2 linked regions of the Homo sapiens genome follow. The protein of the gene in region 1 interacts with the protein of each later gene in a biochemical or structural test. Each region holds a gene or a part of one and is shown on either strand. Other genes may lie near its edges.

Region 1 (4,914 bases):
GGCTGTTATATTTCTGGTCCGTTTCACGGAGCCAGCTCTTTGACTTATAAATAACAGATTCAGGTCACAGGCAGCTCGTCCAAGACCAGCTTTTAAGGCTGCAGTTTCCCCCATTTCAAAGTCAGATGTCAGTGTTATTAGAGGAGCCAGGCGAGGCCTGAGGTAGGGGCTTGGGAGGGGCATGGTGGGAGGTTTGATAAAACCAGCCCTGACCACAGAGTTTCATTATTTGTTCTTCCTGAAAAAAAAAAAAAAAAAAAAAAGGAAAGAAAAACGTAGATTGTCAGAGGCAAGGGTCACCGGAATGTAGGATGAGAGGGGAGTCATCTCTTGATTGGCACAGCCTCCTTCTTGTTGAGCTGAATTATTGAGAAAATTAACTAGCCAGCTCCCCTACTCCTTGGGGATTTTGAACGTGCCATTAACAGGGAGCCAGAGTCTTGTCAAAGGATTGGACCTCAAGTTTTAAGGCTGAATGTCCTGTCCCTTGAAACTATTCTATAAGGGCTAGGCTCTGCAGCCTGCAAAGCACACGTTCCTATGTCAGAAACCTGAGCAGAGCCTGCTTGTTTGCAGTGGAGGTTCCACTGGGGGTTGGATCACATCATACTTAGGTAAACACTGGAAAGAGGCGGTAGGTGGCTCAGCTTGATTTTGCAATGCGCTAAGTTAACCAAAAAAAAAAAAAAAAAAAAAAGCCCTACTAAAACCACCCACCCCAAAATCCTCCCTGCGATCCTGGTTTTGTTTTTCAGATTTCACAGATACCCATAACAACTTGTTAAGATCTTGGCCCCCTGACAAGTTCTTCTGTTGTGCTTTGAGGCCTGACAGCCTGTCTCCAGGGAGCCCTGGCCTGGGAGAGGTGAGGCAGGATTTTATAGGCGCGGACCCTCCAGCCCCAGCCTGGTCCGGGTTTCTCAATGAGAAACGATTTTCTCTGCCTCTCCCAGGTTACAGTCAGAGGCCCTGGCCCCAAGAATGGTATTTCTGGTCAGTAACGTTTTCCAGCTGTGTGGCGAGTTGCATTCCAGCATCCTGCAGCAGAGAGTGTGTTTCCCCCATTGCCTTGTGTTCTCCTTGAATTAACTTGGCTCGCCCTTCCCCTTTTCCGCAGATGGCCTCGCCTCCTCCCGGGTCCGCCTATACTTCTTCATCTCCAACGAAGGCAACCAGAACCTGTTTGTGGTCCAGGCCAGCCTGTGGCTTTACCTGAAACTCCTGCCCTACGTCCTGGAGAAGGGCAGCCGGCGGAAGGTGCGGGTCAAAGTGTACTTCCAGGAGCAGGGCCACGGTGACAGGTGGAACATGGTGGAGAAGAGGGTGGACCTCAAGCGCAGCGGCTGGCATACCTTCCCACTCACGGAGGCCATCCAGGCCTTGTTTGAGCGGGGCGAGCGGCGACTCAACCTAGACGTGCAGTGTGACAGCTGCCAGGAGCTGGCCGTGGTGCCGGTGTTCGTGGACCCAGGCGAAGAGTCGCACCGGCCCTTTGTGGTGGTGCAGGCTCGGCTGGGCGACAGCAGGCACCGCATTCGCAAGCGAGGCCTGGAGTGCGATGGCCGGACCAACCTCTGTTGCAGGCAACAGTTCTTCATTGACTTCCGCCTCATCGGCTGGAACGACTGGATCATAGCACCCACCGGCTACTACGGGAACTACTGTGAGGGCAGCTGCCCAGCCTACCTGGCAGGGGTCCCCGGCTCTGCCTCCTCCTTCCACACGGCTGTGGTGAACCAGTACCGCATGCGGGGTCTGAACCCCGGCACGGTGAACTCCTGCTGCATTCCCACCAAGCTGAGCACCATGTCCATGCTGTACTTCGATGATGAGTACAACATCGTCAAGCGGGACGTGCCCAACATGATTGTGGAGGAGTGCGGCTGCGCCTGACAGTGCAAGGCAGGGGCACGGTGGTGGGGCACGGAGGGCAGTCCCGGGTGGGCTTCTTCCAGCCCCCGCGGGAACGGGGGTACACGGTGGGCTGAGTACAGTCATTCTGTTGGGCTGTGGAGATAGTGCCAGGGTGCGGCCTGAGATATTTTTCTACAGCTTCATAGAGCAACCAGTCAAAACCAGAGCGAGAACCCTCAACTGACATGAAATACTTTAAAATGCACACGTAGCCACGCACAGCCAGACGCATCCTGCCACCCACACAGCAGCCTCCAGGATACCAGCAAATGGATGCGGTGACAAATGGCAGCTTAGCTACAAATGCCTGTCAGTCGGAGAGAATGGGGTGAGCAGCCACCATTCCCACCAGCTGGCCCGGCCACTCTGAATTGCGCCTTCCGAGCACACATAAAAGCACAAAGACAGAGACGCAGAGAGAGAGAGAGAGCCACGGAGAGGAAAAGCAGATGCAGGGGTGGGGAGCGCAGCTCGGCGGAGGCTGCGTGTGCCCCGTGGCTTTTACCAGGCCTGCTCTGCCTGGCTCGATGTCTGCTTCTTCCCCAGCCTGGGATCCTTCGTGCTTCAAGGCCTGGGGAGCCTGTCCTTCCATGCCCTTGTCGAGGGAAAGAGACCCAGAAAGGACACAACCCGTCAGAGACCTGGGAGCAGGGGCAATGACCGTTTGACTGTTTGTGGCTTGGGCCTCTGACATGACTTATGTGTGTGTGTGTTTTTGGGGTGGGGAGGGAGGGAGAGAAGAGGGGGCTAAATTTGATGCTTTAACTGATCTCCAACAGTTGACAGGTCATCCTTGCCAGTTGTATAACTGAAAAAGGACTTTTCTACCAGGTATGACCTTTTAAGTGAAAATCTGAATTGTTCTAAATGGAAAGAAAAAAAGTTGCAATCTGTGCCCTTCATTGGGGACATTCCTCTAGGACTGGTTTGGGGACGGGTGGGAATGACCCCTAGGCAAGGGGATGAGACCGCAGGAGGAAATGGCGGGGAGGAGGCATTCTTGAACTGCTGAGGATGGGGGGTGTCCCCTCAGCGGAGGCCAAGGGAGGGGAGCAGCCTAGTTGGTCTTGGAGAGATGGGGAAGGCTTTCAGCTGATTTGCAGAAGTTGCCCATGTGGGCCCCAGCCATCAGGGCTGGCCGTGGACGTGGCCCCTGCCCACTCACCTGCCCGCCTGCCCGCCCGCCCGCATAGCACTTGCAGACCTGCCTGAACGCACATGACATAGCACTTGCCGATCTGCGTGTGTCCAGAAGTGGCCCTTGGCCGAGCGCCGAACTCGCTCGCCCTCTAGATGTCCAAGTGCCACGTGAACTATGCAATTTAAAGGGTTGACCCACACTAGACGAAACTGGACTCGTACGACTCTTTTTATATTTTTTATACTTGAAATGAAATCCTTTGCTTCTTTTTTAAGCGAATGATTGCTTTTAATGTTTGCACTGATTTAGTTGCATGATTAGTCAGAAACTGCCATTTGAAAAAAAGTTATTTTTATAGCAGCAAAAAAAAAAAAAAAAGAATACAGTTAAATGTATTATACATAATTTTGGAACCAAAGAGGCCAACAGATCAGTTTTAATTTTATTAGACGGTGAGGCCATCTGAGATGAGGTGGACGTTCTGAGCAGTCCCTTGAGTGGCCTGCCAACGTTTCAGGGTATGAATGGATTTTGTTTATTCGGTTTGATGTGTCTTTTCCATCCTTACACACCCAGAAGGTAGAGTAAAAATGACTATGATAGAATGCAGGTGTGTATCCTTAAATCCTCATCTTTATGTTTATTTAATAAAGCTCCCCTTAGATTCTGTTTCATAATAATTTAAAACCAAACAATTTTCCCATAGACTTGCTGTTAAAGTATTGTACGTTTGTGTACAGTTTAAGAAAATAAAAGATTGAGTGCCACGGGCCTCCTGCCTTGCGTGATGTCTGGGGCAGGGAGGCCTGGGCTGGAGGTGGGCAGCTGGGAGGAAGGCCAGTCCAGGTGTCCAGGTTGGATGCCAGCAGCTTCCACGGCCTGCTCCTGGCATCTCTGCGTCCTTGCCATGAGATGTATGTCGGGCAGAGATTCCAGGAAAAATGGCTGAAGATCAAAATGAAGGACAATTAGCAAATTCATGAATTACACATTTGTTTATCCTGCTAGTCCCAAGATTGATTATGTTTCACCAAGGCCACATCCATTACCATTTGCAAGTGCTGGGTAAGCCCCCGTCCCCAGGTGGAAATGTAAAACCCTGAAGGCTGAAGTCCAGCTAACCTCTGCTCACCTCTATTTGGAGGTGACTGGGACCTAGAAGTGGCTTGGTATCTTGGGATAGAAGGGTAAACAGAGTCAGGCTGTGAGTGTACGAAGGAGCCCTTCCTGAGGGGGTTTTCCCGGTGGAGAGTGGTGGTAGGGGCGGTGTAGTAATAATGGCCCACTGCGCAGGTGTAACTGGGATACCCGCCGAGTCCTGCTGTTACCATGCAGCATCGCATCTTTGTGGAAAGTGGCTTTGTCTGCATTTCCCAGAGTTTGAAAATCTGAGGCTTAGAGAGTTCAGAGCCTGCCTGAGGTCAGACATCCAGGACAGGGACCCTGGTGTTTGAGCCCACCCGTTTCCTTGGAGGACTGCAGCCCTGTGCCCTTGCCTTTGTCTGAGGCCCTGCAGGGCTGCTGGGGCTCCGCCCTGGGGTTTGGGTAGCATGTGGTCTTCCCAGAGCACATGGCACTTTAGAGAGCATGTAACCTCATCAAGGTAGTGGGAAACCGAGGGAGGCCCAGACAGCTAGAGGGGTATAGCTCAATCAGCACAGCCAGCTGGTGGCAGGAGGCAGCCTTCTAGCCTTTTCTTTTTCCATTCTTTGCCCAACCAAGGGAGCTACTGCCCTGCCAGGCTTTCAGCCCGAGGGGAAGACTGGTCATCTGTGAAGTTGTGAGACAGTATTACTGTAATTCACAGGGGCAAAGAAGAAAGTGTCATAAAGACAGGTCTGGCCTGTGCATTTCAGGCA
Region 2 (5,246 bases), about 28 Mb from region 1:
AAACTAGAAACACAGAAAAGTACGTTTTGAGGGAATGAAAAGGGCAGGCATTTAGTATAAATTTGTTAACCTATTGTCAGAGCTTTTTCTTATTACAAAACAGAACAAAAAATTTTTTAAGACTTTTTTGTTTTGTTTTGTTTTACTTTGGAACTTATTTGAGTAATCTCTTATGCATGGTTTATTAAACCTGTATTCCTTGTGTTCTTACTATTCTTTCTTTTTGACTCTAGGACAAACAGTCATGGCAAAATGAATACGAAGTCTACAGTTTGCCTGGAATGAAGCATGAGAACATATTACAGTTCATTGGTGCAGAAAAACGAGGCACCAGTGTTGATGTGGATCTTTGGCTGATCACAGCATTTCATGAAAAGGTAAAACTACTTAACGTTTTACTTTAGTAAAGTCTGAGTTGGCCTGCCTACCTAATGCTGGCTATAAATCCCTCAGAGTTATTTTTCGAGACATCTTATAGTTGATTAATATTTAACCTGAAAATAAAAATCATTCTTGAATAAAAATGTTTTAAAAGGTAGTTTATTTTAATAAAAGAGCAAAGATGGCAACTTTTTAACCTAAAACTCTACTCATATAAACCACCCTTTTGTTCCTTATTTCTTGTGCTGTAATTACTCTTACAAACATTTATTTTAGTGTAGGTAATGCTTAGTAATTTTCATTTACCATTTACAATTCATTTTGATTACGTGAACCATTTTTTTAAGTTTTAATCAGTCTTGCTTGTGACAAAACCAGAGTCAGGAAATTTATCTGATCTTTGATCTGTCACTAACTTGCAGGGTAATTATCACCAAAATGTAATTGCTAGTTTTCCTCAATTTTTCTACTTTTAGAGTCAGTGTGAAAGTACCATTAATGAAGTAGGAAATTATGTTTTTGGTAATTGGTTTCATCATTGTGAAATGTAAGTGGTTCTTTTACTTCTCTTATCTTGACCTAAAGGACAACAATAATCTAGAGGAATATTCTACATATTAGTTGTTATTTTATGTTGTTATTTTGTGTTCTGCTAGTCCCATGATATAACAACTCTATAGTCAGGATATTTTAACTTTTAAAATATTTTCTAGAACCTTAGATTTTCAACTAGTCTTTAAAAAAAAAAAAAAACAAACTTGTCTTATAGATTGGTGGAAGTTGACTATTCTTGTAACAAAAGTTTAAAGCTCTGGTATTTCCTTCTGGTCAAATGTTTATTAATGTGAAATGGAAGGAAATTTGAACCATTTGAACCATTCCAGAAAGATTGTTTCTTGGATATTATTTTTCCCTGAAAGGGAAACTCACAACCTCTTATAGGTAAAAAGAAAAGTCTCCTTATACATATGGCCTTTGTCAAGAACATAAGTTTCTTTTTTTCCCTCTTTTTTTAGGGTTCACTATCAGACTTTCTTAAGGCTAATGTGGTCTCTTGGAATGAACTGTGTCATATTGCAGAAACCATGGCTAGAGGATTGGCATATTTACATGAGGATATACCTGGCCTAAAAGATGGCCACAAACCTGCCATATCTCACAGGTAGACTAAATTTATATTGTTTTCCCAGATAATTGAGTATATATTTACTAAACTTTTAAGCCCCTGGGTAAATTTTAATTTTTCCTTTGTTATGCAATCATGCTTTACAAGACAGTCAGTTTTCATTTGTTTTTTAAAATTAGCTTTGAGATTGGCCAGGAAGTATTTTGGATAATGTATATGTTAACATTATTGGTAAAGTTTAATGATCTACTTCATCTCATTTCTGAAAGCATGATTGAAAATAAACTATATTTTCTCGATCTCAAAGGAAAAAGACATTTGTTTTACCTCAAAACATGATTTATCAATAGGGATTATTATCCAAGGGCATGTAATGAAGGAGAGACTTTGAATGTCTTCCTTGCTTGTTTTTTGAATGACCTTATCTGTACCCTGAGCCAAGTCTTAAAGGGAGGCATCACTTAAAACAGTTGTCCAGTGAAGAAATACTACTTAGACCCAACAGTTGTCATGCCCGCAAAAGGAAAAATGATTGTGTCTTAAACATGGAATTCAGTTTGCCATGTATTTAATTTTCTTGAACGTGGGATTCAATTTGTTGTCTTGTGTTCCATTTAAAGATGGTTGTTTGAAAAGTAGGCATTAACTGATTCACAGAACAGATACTTAGCTGAGTGCCACCAGGCGATGTTTTAGGTTGCTGGGAGGCATTATTGTAAGTCAGCCTCTAATTTAGGTTCTGATTTTGCAAACTTTAAATGACGTCTACCTCAGAAATAACTCTTCTCACTTTCTTACATGCAGTCTATTGGCCTCGTCTTCGATTTTCCCTTGCCCTACCTGGTCACATAGGGAATTAATCCTTAAGGACCCCCAAAGTTATTAAGGGCCTGAAAGTCTTTTGAAACTAAGATCGATTAGCTTTTATAGCATTTGGGAGTGTCTGCTTGTGCTTTCAGTATCCCATTATTGGTCTATATGTCTGCACATAAATTTAACCACTAGTCATTGGCATAGATGTATTTAACTAGGGTATAGTAATCTCTAGGATGAGCCAGTTGAGACAGGTGTGTAGAAGAGGATATCTTACTGCCTTAAAACTGTTACCCTTTTCAGAACACCAGGATCTAGCTAGAGCAGTGTATGTTTATGGTAAAAAGTTTCTGTTATTCATTCCATAAGATGCTTTTCTACAACCAGGTGGAAGAATATAAGAACCTCTATAATAAGGGATTATTCTAAAATGTAGGTCTCTACCAATAAGCAGAAGGCCCCAATTCAGCTATTTTTTAAAAGTTTCTTCATTTTGGTTTAAAATTTCTGTTTCTATGGGAGTTTGCAAATCAGAACTCTGAGATATTAACAGTAGTTTTATGATTGGTAGGTGGGTGACATAGATAACATATCTTTTTGGTATGGCAGATTTTTATATAACTGCTTTATAGGTAGGATTCCTTCTTATTGTCCATGTTATGAATAGGGGTTTGTCACCGTGCTCTTGTGTTTAAGGCTGCATGGGGCTCTGAGCTTTGTTTGTCTCACTTTCTCTGCATTTCATAATTTTAAGTAACTATTTTTTCATAGTGTACATATTCCCCCTTTTCTGCTTTCAATAAAAAATTTAAAAAGGTAACTAGTTTAAACTTAATTTGAATACTCTTTTTATTTGCAAGGGACATCAAAAGTAAAAATGTGCTGTTGAAAAACAACCTGACAGCTTGCATTGCTGACTTTGGGTTGGCCTTAAAATTTGAGGCTGGCAAGTCTGCAGGCGATACCCATGGACAGGTAAGGATGATGATTATAAAATGTAAGAAAAAATAAACTTGTTCCATATTTTCTTAGAATGGCATGTCAGGACTGAATTAGTCTAAAATTGTTGTGGTGTTTAAATCAGCATCTAATAGAGTTATCAAAGTTTCTGAGGAAGACATTTTCATATGATGGTAGAGGACTCAGGTGGTTTAGATCAAGCACTTCGTAAAGCAACCCTTAGACACACGTCATAGGATTCTTTTTGAAAAATTGATCAAAGAATAATCCACCACCTTTTAACAGACCTCATTCTTAGGGAATTCTTCGTATGAACTCCGTAGTTTTAGTCTGTTAGTTCTTTCACCATCTTAAGAAGAGTGGAAGAATAATTAGTCACTGTCCTTACTACAGTGTATTAAGATTTCCTGTCCATTTTCCCATGCAATAATAGTTTATTGCTTCTTGTTGTTTATTGCTTCATTAATTTCTTTAATCAACTTGATGGCTTTTCTCCAAATTCTCTCCAGAGTTCAGAGCACTTGTAAACCCCTGAATTAGGTAACTCTTCACACCTCTGTATATATCCATATGCACAGAAATCTTAGTAATGGGAACCTCTAGGAAGGCCAAAAGGGAAAAGAACATTATCCATACAGTTTATTCTCAGAAACTTTGAGGCTGGAAAAGATGTTTTCATTCCTGCAAGATCACCTTTTATTTTTATTTATTTATTTATTTTTGAGACAGAGTCTCGCTCTGTCACCCAGGCTGGAGTGCAGTGGCATGATCTTGGCTCACTGCAGCCTCTGCCTTCCAAGTTCAAGTGATTCTCCTGGCTCAGCTTCCTGAGTAGCTGGGATTACACACATGCACCACCATGCCCAGCCTAATGTTTGTATTTTTAATGGAGATGGGGTTTCACCAAGTTGGCCAGGCTTGTATCGAGCTCCTGACCTCAAGTGATCCTCCCACCTCGGCCTCCCAAAGTGCTGGGATTATAGGCGTGAGCCACCACGCCCAGCCAAGATCACCTTTTAATCAGGGAAACCAGTTCAACCTAAAAGGTGACATTTTCTACAAAGCTAAATGGTTCAGGCCTTCGACATTATCATTTCTTCATCTTTCATATCATGTAAATTATTTGGCCAACTAATTCTTAGGTTTCTTTTCCCCAGCATATCCTATTGGTTCCTGAGGACACGTTTTTAATGTCATGGCACCACCAATTTTGGCAGTATTGACTAACTATTTAAGAATGTAGTTTGGGGTAATGGTCAGTAGCCATATAGCTCTAGAAAAGTTGACTGCAAATGTGTATGGGAATGGAGGCAATTTTGTGGAGAATACTACCAAGATTGTGTAGGAAGCCTGAGGACAAACTTCTAAGCTAATTGAATGATAGACTATCATAAGACTAAATTCTGGGAACATATTCTTAATTTGGTACCTCATAAGCCCTCCCTCATTTTTTGAGAAAAAAAATTTCTGACTCATTCATGTCATATTTTTAACTCCTTCACAACTGGGTTTTATGATTAGTTAAAAATTATTGGCTTACAGTAATGACTCCTTGACTTTAGATTTCATGGACCAGAAAATTTCAGAAATATTTGGAGGGACTTGCATGTTATTGCACATTTTATATAGTACAAAGAACACATATAAAAGAGGGAACATTTTATGTCAACATGGTAAATAAACCATAATCTTACAATAAAAGAGGTAGGTACCTTGGATGGCATACATTTACCTGTAAGAGAAAAGTAGGCTTTAGGGAAACATTCACTGATAGCACAATTAAAATAATTATTCTGAGTAGTAAATTTTTTAAAAGTAGAGCCACTTTTCCCTTTAATGTGTTCTCCTTGAACTTTAGTCTTAGTGATCTGTCTTTATTCTTAAAAAAAATCTTTACATGTATATTTGCATAAATTGCCCAACTTTTAGTCTAGAGTAGAGATTATAGCCACCTAAGGATGGAGCG

What was found.
Region 2: the proteins of INHBB (region 1) and ACVR2A form a complex in vitro, tested with the Homo sapiens proteins (one study listed by BioGRID).

Annotation. Positions count from the first base shown.
Region 1 is NC_000002.12:120,347,982-120,352,895, forward strand, and holds the end of INHBB (inhibin beta B chain preproprotein), read left to right. Parts: intron 1-1,117; coding exon 1,118-1,893; 3' UTR 1,894-3,822; downstream 3,823-4,914. UniProt on the Homo sapiens protein: Inhibins and activins inhibit and activate, respectively, the secretion of follitropin by the pituitary gland.
Region 2 is NC_000002.12:147,917,050-147,922,295, forward strand, and holds part of ACVR2A (activin receptor type-2A isoform 1 precursor), read left to right. Parts: intron 1-233; coding exon 234-377; intron 378-1,397; coding exon 1,398-1,543; intron 1,544-3,180; coding exon 3,181-3,295; intron 3,296-5,246. UniProt on the Homo sapiens protein: On ligand binding, forms a receptor complex consisting of two type II and two type I transmembrane serine/threonine kinases.